Homo sapiens: one gene and its partners. The protein of the gene in region 1 purifies or fractionates together with the protein of each later gene. This does not show direct contact. Each region holds a gene or a part of one and is shown in the gene's direction. Other genes may lie near its edges. The genes, in order: PPP2R3A, EEA1 and FRMD4A.

Region 1 (2,492 bases):
GAATGATGTATTTAATATCCAAATTAGTTGATAACTGTTTTCACTTCCTATCAGAAGGCCTGCTTGAAGACATAAAGGAATAATGATACATTAAAATTCTTACTAGATAGATATATTCCTTCCTCCCAGGAGTATTAGACTAGCTAATAGTAAAGGCCTCAACGTTATTCTTTACTTCATGTTGAAAACAATTACTACAGATATTTCATCCACCTCAGTATTTATCAAGGAAATGGAAAATGATACAGCTATAAAAGAAAGCTGTTATTTACTGTAGTTGTAGATGTATTCACTACAGAATCCTACATTTTTCAGCAGGCCACAGTCCAGCCAAATCCTATAATATCCTTGAAAAGAAACTATTAAAAAGGATAGACATTTCTGATGTAAGTAAAACCCCCAAGCAACTTAATATCCATCTGTCAGTCATCAACTTTTCCCCTAGATTTTTTTTTTAACTAGTTCTGAAAGTGTCAAGAATAGCTTCCCTTTCCACCCTACCTAGGTTCCCTCCTTGCTGGCATAAAGGCCAAGCAGTGAAATGAACCTTGGGTTAGAGTTATGGTAGGCAAAAAGAAAAGGAGAATTTAGGAAATAAATATGCTATAAACAAGGTACAGTACAGTGAGAGTTAACAATCCTAGGAATCCTGCCTGTCACAAGCTCCCAGTTCCCTGTCATTTTATCTTCATGATTAGAACTGATCTTCCATTTAACTATTACAGAAAGCAGTAACTATTGCAACTATCTAATAGTTCACACAAAAGAATTAAAAGCTTAAAAATAATTTTTAGGAAACACAATATTCAAAATCTAAACACACTGATAAATTATTAAGATTAAGATTATTTATGTGATAAATGAAATCTCCTACCAATCCATCCAGCCTTTACCAGGGAAGAAAAGCAATTATTTCATTTCAGATAGAAATACAAAAAAAAAAAAAATACTTTTCTTAGAAGCCAGATATGGTTTAAATGTTTTATTATCCATAATGATCTAAACTAATAAGATTCACCAAAAAGTAAAAATTCAATTTTACAATATACATTTTTTTTTTTAACTATTTGGCTTTACCTTTTTACCTTGGTTCTCCTTACTGAAGTCCTCTTGCTTTCACTTTGATCTGGTTTTTGAAGTCTCTTAATTATTGGCTGGGCATGGTGACTCATGCCTGTAATCCCGGCACTTTGGGAGGCCAAGGGAGGTGATCACTTGAGCCCAGGAGTAAAGACCAGCCTGGGCAACATAGTGAGACTCCGTCTCTACAAAAAATAAATTTAGCTGGGCATGGTGGTGCACATCTGTAGTCCTACCAACTTGGGAGGCTGAGGCAGGAGAATCGCTTGAGCCCCAGGCTTCGAGGCTGCAGTGAGCTATGATTACGACACTGCACTCCAGCCTAGGCGACAGAGCAAGACCCCATTCTCTTACAAAGTCTCTATTATAAAAGTACATCCATCAATACCATTCCATTTAAAATGGGCTATTGTAATTTACCCACATTATCACATTTTCAGGAATTATAAGAATGTGTTTTATTGTACTCCTTCCTTGGAGCTGAATGCAAGGAATGTGAATTCTGAGGAATTAAGGTAGAATATATTTGACTTTCTGGTAAAGATCATGGTTAAGTATAATCATTACTGCCAAACTGGAATTTTCAAGTTATTATAATATCCCAGGCCCCTTGATAAAAGCTGAGGGTTATCATGACCTTAATGCTAATTCAATGAGAAATGAGTTTAATAGCATAACATTACCAAGGTAATCAAACTAATAAAATTCCATATATCTTCCCTGCATCTTGTCACTGTGTACCATTCAAAGTGTTTATAAAACTCTAGATTCATCAAATGAGATTTGCTCAGCTTTTTGAAATGTTAAGATGTGTTTGGAGAAGGCTGCATGACTTTGTTTTTCCCTTTTAGCAAAACTAAATAAAGTTGTCAAATATGAATCATGTTCATTAAGGTAATTACTACACACTTGTGCTTTTAATCATATTTGCACCTCATTTTTTTGTCTGCAAGAGTAACACTGTAAACAAGCTTGAATGTCAGAGAATAACTCTTTGAGCCCATGTGAAAACTACAAAGAAAGGTCTTTGTAGTAATGACAATATACTGAGAAATGATTTCTTCAGGGGATAGGGAAGAGGACCAGGGTTTGTGAATGAGGCGGAGTTCACAGGAATCAAGGTAGACTTTAGCCTCATCTATAATGCATTATTTTAAAAGAATGTGTAACGGCATGTTTTGGGGTACCTAAATTTTATTTCAGAGGCAAGGTCTATGTTGCCCAGGCTGAGTTCGAACTCCTGAGCTTAAGTGATCCTCCCACCTCAGCCTCCTAAGTAGCTGAGATTACAGGCACACACCACTGTGCCTAGCTTTTAATTTTTTTAAAAAGAGAAAAGTATAAAATACCATACTTTGAACTTAGTATTTTCTAAAGCATTTCTGTTTTTTATCTATGATATGGTTATGGAC
Region 2 (3,658 bases), on another chromosome or scaffold:
GTAACATTGTGAATGTAAACAGTATTGGCAAATATCTTTGCATTATTTCTAATCTTAGGCAGGAAATATTAAATGTTTCATCATTAAGTTTGAGGTTAGCTGTAGGTTTTTCTGAGATTCCCTTTATCAGATTGAAGACATTACCTTTGATACCTAGTTATATATAAAAAAAAAATTATCGGCCTTGTGGCTCATGCCTGTAATCCTAGAAATTTGGGAGGCTGAGGCAGGCAGATCATCTGAAGTCAGGAGTTCGAGACCAGCCTGGCCAACAGGGTGAAACCTCGTCTCCACTAAAAATACAAAAATCAGCAGGGGATGGTGGCACACGCCTGTAATCTCAGCTACTCGGGAGGCTGAGGCATGAGAATTGCTTGAACCTGGGAGGCAGAAGTTTCAGTGAGCTGAGATCATGCCACTGCACTCCAGTGCCACTGCACTCCAACCTGGGCGACAGAGCGAGACTCCGTCTCAAAAAAAAAAAAATTATTAAAAAAGAAAAATTACCGTGCTTGGATTGAATTTTATCACCTTTTTTCCTGTATCTGTTGATGTGATCATATGGATTTTCTGTTTTATTCTGTTAATATGGTCAGTTACATTGATTGATTTACTGTTAAACCAACCTTGCTTTCCTGGGATAAATTAACTTGACCATGCTGTATTACCTTTTTGTATATTGCTGTTTTTGATTTGATAATACTTTGTTAAAAATGTTTCATATATTTATGAGGGGTATTGGTCTGTAGTATTCTTTTAATATCATTGTCAGGTTTTGATATCAGAGTTATACTGGCCTTAAAAAGGAATTGAGAAGTATTTCCTCCTCCTTTCTGAAATAGTTTGTATGAGATGGATATTATTTGTTTCTTAAAAGTTTGATGGAATTCACTAGTGAACTGGCTAGGCTTAGAGTTCTCTTTCTGGATTGTTTCATTTGGGGTTCAATTCATTTAATAGACATAGAGCTATTCTAATTTCCTGATTTTTTTTTCTTGAGTCAGTTTTGGTACATTGTGTCTTTCAGAAATGGGTTCATTTCCTCTAAACTTCAAGTTTATTGGCAGTTGTTCATAATATTACACTTTTAAGGTCTGTTAGGATCTGTAGTAGTGTTCCTCCTTTATTCTTAATCATGCTAATTTGTCTTTTTAAAAATCAATTTAATTAGAGATTTATCAGTTTTATCAGACTATTGTAAAAAGCTTTTGATTTATTTTGTCAGTTTTCTATCTTATTTATTTCTCCTCTTTATTGTTTCCATCTTTAGACCTTATTACTTTGCTTTTTTTTAATAGCTTTTAAATGTGAAAGCGTCACTGTGTCTGTCTACATTTTGTAGTATCTGTTTCTTTTTTTCAGTTACCCACTTTTCACTTGTCAATGCTAGATGTAAGATTTCTGCAGATGGTAGTATGTAGCCTTATTCTAATAAAATCAGTGTATTATGACAGTTTTGCCACAGATGGAATAAATTATCTTGAAAGAGGGTATCTTTTTTCTAATTTGCACTAAAGTGCTCAATGGATTCATGGCAGCTCTGAGTATAAGGGTGGATTGGTTTAGAAGTTATTGGGACCTATACGATTTATTAGTATATGAAATTTCAAATGTCTCTGGTGGCAGAATGGGCATGTGCTTCTGAACATATATAGCCATAGAAGTGCTTAGCTGCAGCATCATTCGTTCACTCCCAAGGTAGAATTAGTCTCTTGCCCAGCTTATCCTTGATGTTGATGCTGAATTTGGGTCCTGCCATGATGAGATCTTCAATGAACACATCACTCACCATTATTTTGATGGATAAAAATCAGTTCCACCCAATTCATTTGAATGTCTTCATATAACTGGTTACATTTGAGTACATTTTGTCTTTAAACATCAAATCACCTGCTCTGACTGAGTTGATGGACTTGACTTGTGTCAAGGGGATGAGGGCTCTTGACTGTTCCAGTAGTAAAGGTAGAGACTAAGAACCTGAGAAAAGTCCTCTTCAGAAAGGTGAAATAAAACCCATCAGAGTTGATGATTAAGTTGTTTCACACCTTCATGGTTTTCATCCTTGTTTGGGGATATGATGGTGAAAATATTCTCATTTTCATATCTAGTAAATTGGGTCCTGATGCTTTGAATCGGAGGTTATAGAATTGCATCTTGTGCCTCAGGTGGCATTCCTCCTCACGGTAGTTTCCAGTGCCTAGGTATTTGAGGAGCATATCTGATCCATTACATTACCAACCAAATGGTTCATCATTATCTCTAGAATGCAGGCATCAGTCCATGAAGATCATCTCCGAGATGGCTTTTGTTCTGTTCCTCAAAAACTCTGCAGGCCCAATGGTTCTTTCTGTTTCCAATGGGCCCAATGGAAGTGGACCCATTTTCATTCTATGTTCTAATCTCATGGTTCAGAATTCACTTACAGGGCTCCCACATCCTATTGGGGTAGGAAAACCTTTAAGATCTTTCTTGCCTATGTACTTTGTACATACATTTCTCCTCTGAGGTCTTCTCACATTTCTGGAGTACTACCTAGGCAAGGAGGGCTGGGGTCCCTTCTGCTCTTATATCAGATAAACATATAGAGACTTTGACTAAACCCCACCCATGAGCCCAGGGCTTAGCCCAAATAACAGGATACAGGGCTCCCCTTTTTGAGGGCCCCCTTACATTTATACACCCAATGTTTCCCTCCCATCTTACAATGTATTTTCATTCCTCTGCAGTTTAATATATTTTCTGATTTCCTTTGTGATTCCTTCTTTAATGTGTAGGTTATAAGTATGTTTACTTTCCAAATATTGAGGCTTTCCTAGGTATATTATTGTTACTGATTTTTTTTTTTTTTTTTTTTTTTGAGACAGAGTCTCACTCTGTCGCCCAGGCTGGAATGCAGTGGCGTGATCTCGGCTCACTGCAACCTCTGCCACCTGGGTTCAAGCGATTCTCCTGCTTCAGCCTCACGAGTAGCTGGGATTACAGGTGCCTGCCATCATGCCTGGCTAATTTTTGTGTTTTTAGTAGAGATGGGGGTTTCACTGTGTTAGCCAGGTTGGTCTCGATCTCCTGACCTTGTGATCCGCCCACCTTGGCCTCCCACAGTGCTGGGATTACAGGCGTGAGCCACCGTGCCTGGCCCTAATTTCTAATTTAATTTTATTGTGGTCAGAGAACATTCTTGGTAAAATTCAAACTTTTGAAAGTAAGTCTTATTTAAGGCCCAGCATATGGCTTATCATAATTAATTTTCCATGTGCACATATATGTACTCTGTGTTATTGGGTGGAGTGGCTATAAATAACAATTACAGTGCTGTTCTTATTGTCTATATTCTTGCCAATTTGTTCCTCTGGTTGTTCTATCAGTTTCTAAAAAGAGATATTATAGTTTCCAACTATGATTGTGGACTTGTTTATTTCTTCCCTTAGTTACTTAAAAAAAAACAAGAAGTGTCACAGTGACTATGTAAGCCTCTATTTCTGTTTTGCTTTCTTTGATTCACATAGTCTTATGATTTTGTAATTAATTTTGAAAAAGTTAAGCAGCATAGTAAATAAATATATCAAGTCTTAATTCTAAGGTTGCTTAACAGGGATTTTAACTATATTAAAATGTAAAATAATATTAGTATAATGACTTTTCCATTTGGACCTTTAAA
Region 3 (3,658 bases), on another chromosome or scaffold:
GCTTTGCAGCAGCCACAAGCGCTTCCCCAGCACAGGAAGCTGTGCGGAAGCCGGCGGAGGAAGCAACTCCTTGCAGAACAGCCCCATCCGCGGCCTCCCGCACTGGAACTCCCAGTCCAGCATGCCGTCCACGCCAGACCTGCGGGTCCGGAGTCCCCACTACGTCCATTCCACGAGGTGAGTCTGCCTGGCCTTCCTGCTCAGACCAAGCCTTCCTTTTTAAAATTGGGCATTGTCAGCCCCAAGCTGGCCCAAATAATGGATGAGCTACAGTCAGACCTGAACCTGGGAGGATAAATGAAGCGGAATAAAAAACCAAGCTGGCAGCAGTCAACCCCCGTTAGCCAAGAGACCCATGCACAGGGCACTTGGAGTCAGCCAAAGAATCCCCGGGCTTCTGGAGACAGGGAGCATGGAAAGTTTCCTAAGCAAAGCAGAGGCCACAGAGGCTGGCTGGGTTAGCATGGGAAGAGGTCTTCTATCTTTCTACTGAGGCCTAAATTTATACTGGACTTCCTTTAGTGCCTCAAAATGTAAATTCATAAAGAGCAAAAGAGCCAGGCAAAAATGAGGCTTCAGTGAATCACACCTTCTGTTTCTTTTTTTTTTTTTTTTTTTGAGATGGAGTCTTGCTCTGTCACCCAGGCTGGAGTACAGTGGCGCGATCTTGGCTCGCTGCAACCTCTGCCTCCCGTGTTCAAGCGATTCTCCTGCCTCAGCCTCCCAAGTAGGTGGGATTACAGGCACCTACCACCACGCCTGGCTAATTTTTGTATTTTTTAGTAGAGACGGGGTTTCACCATGTTGGCCAGGCTGGTCTGGAACTCCTGACCTCAGGTGATCCACCCACCTTGGCCTCCCAAAGTGCTGGGATTAGAGACGTGAGCCACCGCTCCTAGCCACACCTTCTTTTTCTAAAAAGAAGCAAACCAGATCACGGAGGGCCACGTGATGGGGGCTTTCATCCCCCTTCTGAGTGGCAGTCGGAAGTGGGACTCGCCTCTTCCTGTGCTTGGCCCGTGGGGCCGCTGTGAAGTTCACATGCAGTCCCAGCATCGGGCAACATCATCTGCCATGTGATACTGTTTTGCACTTCCCTAAGCCCTGAGTGGACTCAAACGAGCAGAATGAATTATAAAGTAATGGTATGGTGAGTATTTGCATCATTCATTGTTTAATTATCTCATTTGCCACCAACCTTCTATTTCCCAGTTTTCACAGGAAAGGGGAGTCTATTTATATGGATCATGTAATAGTATTTGGTTAAACAATATGAAGGGCCTCTGTAGGACTGCTTTTATCTGATCTGTAAATAGGGACATTTCATCTGGTTTGTGTTTTCTTTTTTTTTTTTTTTTTTTTTTTTTAAGAGAGACAGGGTCTTGCCCTGTTGCCCAGGCTGGAGTGCAGTGGTTTGATCATAGCTTACTGCATCCTCAAGTGATCCTCCCTCTTCAACCTCCTGACTAGCTGGGACCCCTGGTGTACAACACTACACCCAGCTAATTTTCTAATTTATTTGTAAGAGATGAGGTCTTACAGTGTTGCACAGGATGGTCTCAAATTCCCAGGCTCAAGCAATTCTTCAGCCTCCTGAAGCACTGGGATTACAGGCGTGGACCACAGTGCCCAGCCCTATCTGGTTTAACATGATACTAAGGATTCTGTGATTCTCTTTGTGTCTATAGAATTATTTAAAAAAAAAAAAAAACCCAGAAATCGAAACCTTTCTGTGAGTCCTAGCTTCAGTCCCACTTCCCACTGGGAATCATGGTGGAGACCCCAGGTTCACCTCCCGCAATGGGCAGTTCCCGGATCCCTGGGGCAGCCCTGCTGAGTGAGACTCTGGCTTGCTGGGCTGGGGCCTGCGCCCGCGTGCAGACACCCAGTGCCCTCCTCAGGACCCCCTCCTCCCCGGAGCACCCCTCCTTGGGCCCACTCCCCACCCCCAGACCAACCCGGGTCGTCTCCCGGCAGGTCGGTGGACATCAGCCCCACCCGACTGCACAGCCTCGCACTGCACTTTAGGCACCGGAGCTCCAGCCTGGAGTCCCAGGGCAAGCTCCTGGGCTCGGAAAACGACACCGGGAGCCCCGACTTCTACACCCCGCGGACTCGTAGCAGCAACGGCTCAGACCCCATGGACGACTGCTCGTCGTGCACCAGCCACTCGAGCTCGGAGCACTACTACCCGGCGCAGATGAACGCCAACTACTCCACGCTGGCCGAGGACTCGCCGTCCAAGGCGCGCCAGAGGCAGAGGCAGCGGCAGCGGGCGGCGGGCGCACTGGGCTCAGCCAGCTCGGGCAGCATGCCCAACCTGGCGGCGCGCGGGGGTGCGGGGGGCGCGGGGGGCGCGGGGGGCGGTGTGTACCTGCACAGCCAGAGCCAGCCCAGCTCGCAGTACCGCATCAAGGAGTACCCGCTGTACATCGAGGGCGGCGCCACGCCCGTGGTGGTGCGCAGCCTGGAGAGCGACCAGGAGGGCCACTACAGCGTCAAGGCTCAGTTCAAGACGTCCAACTCCTACACGGCGGGCGGCCTGTTCAAGGAGAGCTGGCGCGGCGGCGGCGGCGACGAGGGCGACACGGGCCGCCTGACGCCGTCGCGATCGCAGATCCTGCGGACTCCGTCGCTGGGCCGCGAGGGCGCCCACGACAAGGGCGCGGGCCGTGCCGCCGTCTCAGACGAGCTGCGCCAGTGGTACCAGCGTTCCACCGCCTCGCACAAGGAGCACAGCCGCCTGTCGCACACCAGCTCCACCTCCTCGGACAGCGGCTCGCAGTACAGCACCTCCTCCCAGAGCACCTTCGTGGCGCACAGCAGGGTCACCAGGATGCCCCAGATGTGCAAGGCCACGTCAGGTGAGAGGGGGCGGCCAGGTGCACGCGGGAAGACCTGAGGGCGAACTGCTTGCCGGTGTCAAGGGCTACCGCGGGGAAGGTACCCTTAGGACTGGGTGCAGTGAGGAACGGGAATCATTAATTAATTCTGGGAACGCTGCTGTTAGATGCGGGAGACTTGAGGTCTTCCAGGCCTTTGTTGACCCCGCCCCGTTCTAACCCTAATCTTGCACCATAACCGTGCACCTGACCCTCCAGAGTGCACTGGGCCAGCTCTCCCATTTCTCCTTGTAAAGACAGAAATCTAAGAAAGTTAGTTAGGTAAAGTAAAAGTAATGTCTCTGGGTTTATCCAACCAAAGGTGTCTTTTACCCTAGTGAGGAGAGTATCCCAGTGAAAGCCCACAGCTGTAGCTTGCAAAGGAAGCTGGGTTGGGGATGGGCTTGGGTCAAGCCTAGAGATTTGGCCAGTGTCTCCCCAGATGGGGGCAGACTGGCTAATAAACAGTGCCAGAGCTGTGCGTTTGACAGAATTCCTGGCTGCTCCTGGCTTTCCCATTTCGATGATGATGTTATGCCATAGCCACAAACTATTATTTAAGTGTCTTAAATATCCTTGACGTTATATCTGAAAATTTCTATAAAGTTTACCTTATATTCTCATACTCAAGAGCATTGGGCGGTATTGAATCAAGTAAAAAACAAAAAAAAAAGGAAGAAACCACTCATTCCCTTAAGTTACATTTAATAACAGTGACAATGACCAACATTGAGCAGTTGCCTCGTGCTCCGGTCTCAGCACTGGCTTATTAACAT

The links.
Region 2: the proteins of PPP2R3A (region 1) and EEA1 purify together in Homo sapiens (co-immunoprecipitation; one large-scale study listed by IntAct). This does not show direct contact.
Region 3: the proteins of PPP2R3A (region 1) and FRMD4A purify together in Homo sapiens (co-immunoprecipitation; one large-scale study listed by IntAct). This does not show direct contact.

What each region holds. Positions count from the first base shown.
Region 1 is NC_000003.12:136,145,935-136,148,426, forward strand, and holds the end of PPP2R3A (serine/threonine-protein phosphatase 2A regulatory subunit B'' subunit alpha), read left to right. Parts: 3' UTR 1-1,960; downstream 1,961-2,492. UniProt on the Homo sapiens protein: The B regulatory subunit might modulate substrate selectivity and catalytic activity, and might also direct the localization of the catalytic enzyme to a particular subcellular compartment.
Region 2 is NC_000012.12:92,803,771-92,807,428, reverse strand, and holds part of EEA1 (early endosome antigen 1), read left to right. Parts: intron 1-3,658. UniProt on the Homo sapiens protein: Binds phospholipid vesicles containing phosphatidylinositol 3-phosphate and participates in endosomal trafficking.
Region 3 is NC_000010.11:13,655,842-13,659,499, reverse strand, and holds part of FRMD4A (FERM domain-containing protein 4A), read left to right. Parts: intron 1-9; coding exon 10-177; intron 178-1,977; coding exon 1,978-2,864; intron 2,865-3,570; exon of another isoform or gene 3,571-3,658. UniProt on the Homo sapiens protein: Scaffolding protein that regulates epithelial cell polarity by connecting ARF6 activation with the PAR3 complex. Plays a redundant role with FRMD4B in epithelial polarization. May regulate MAPT secretion by activating ARF6-signaling.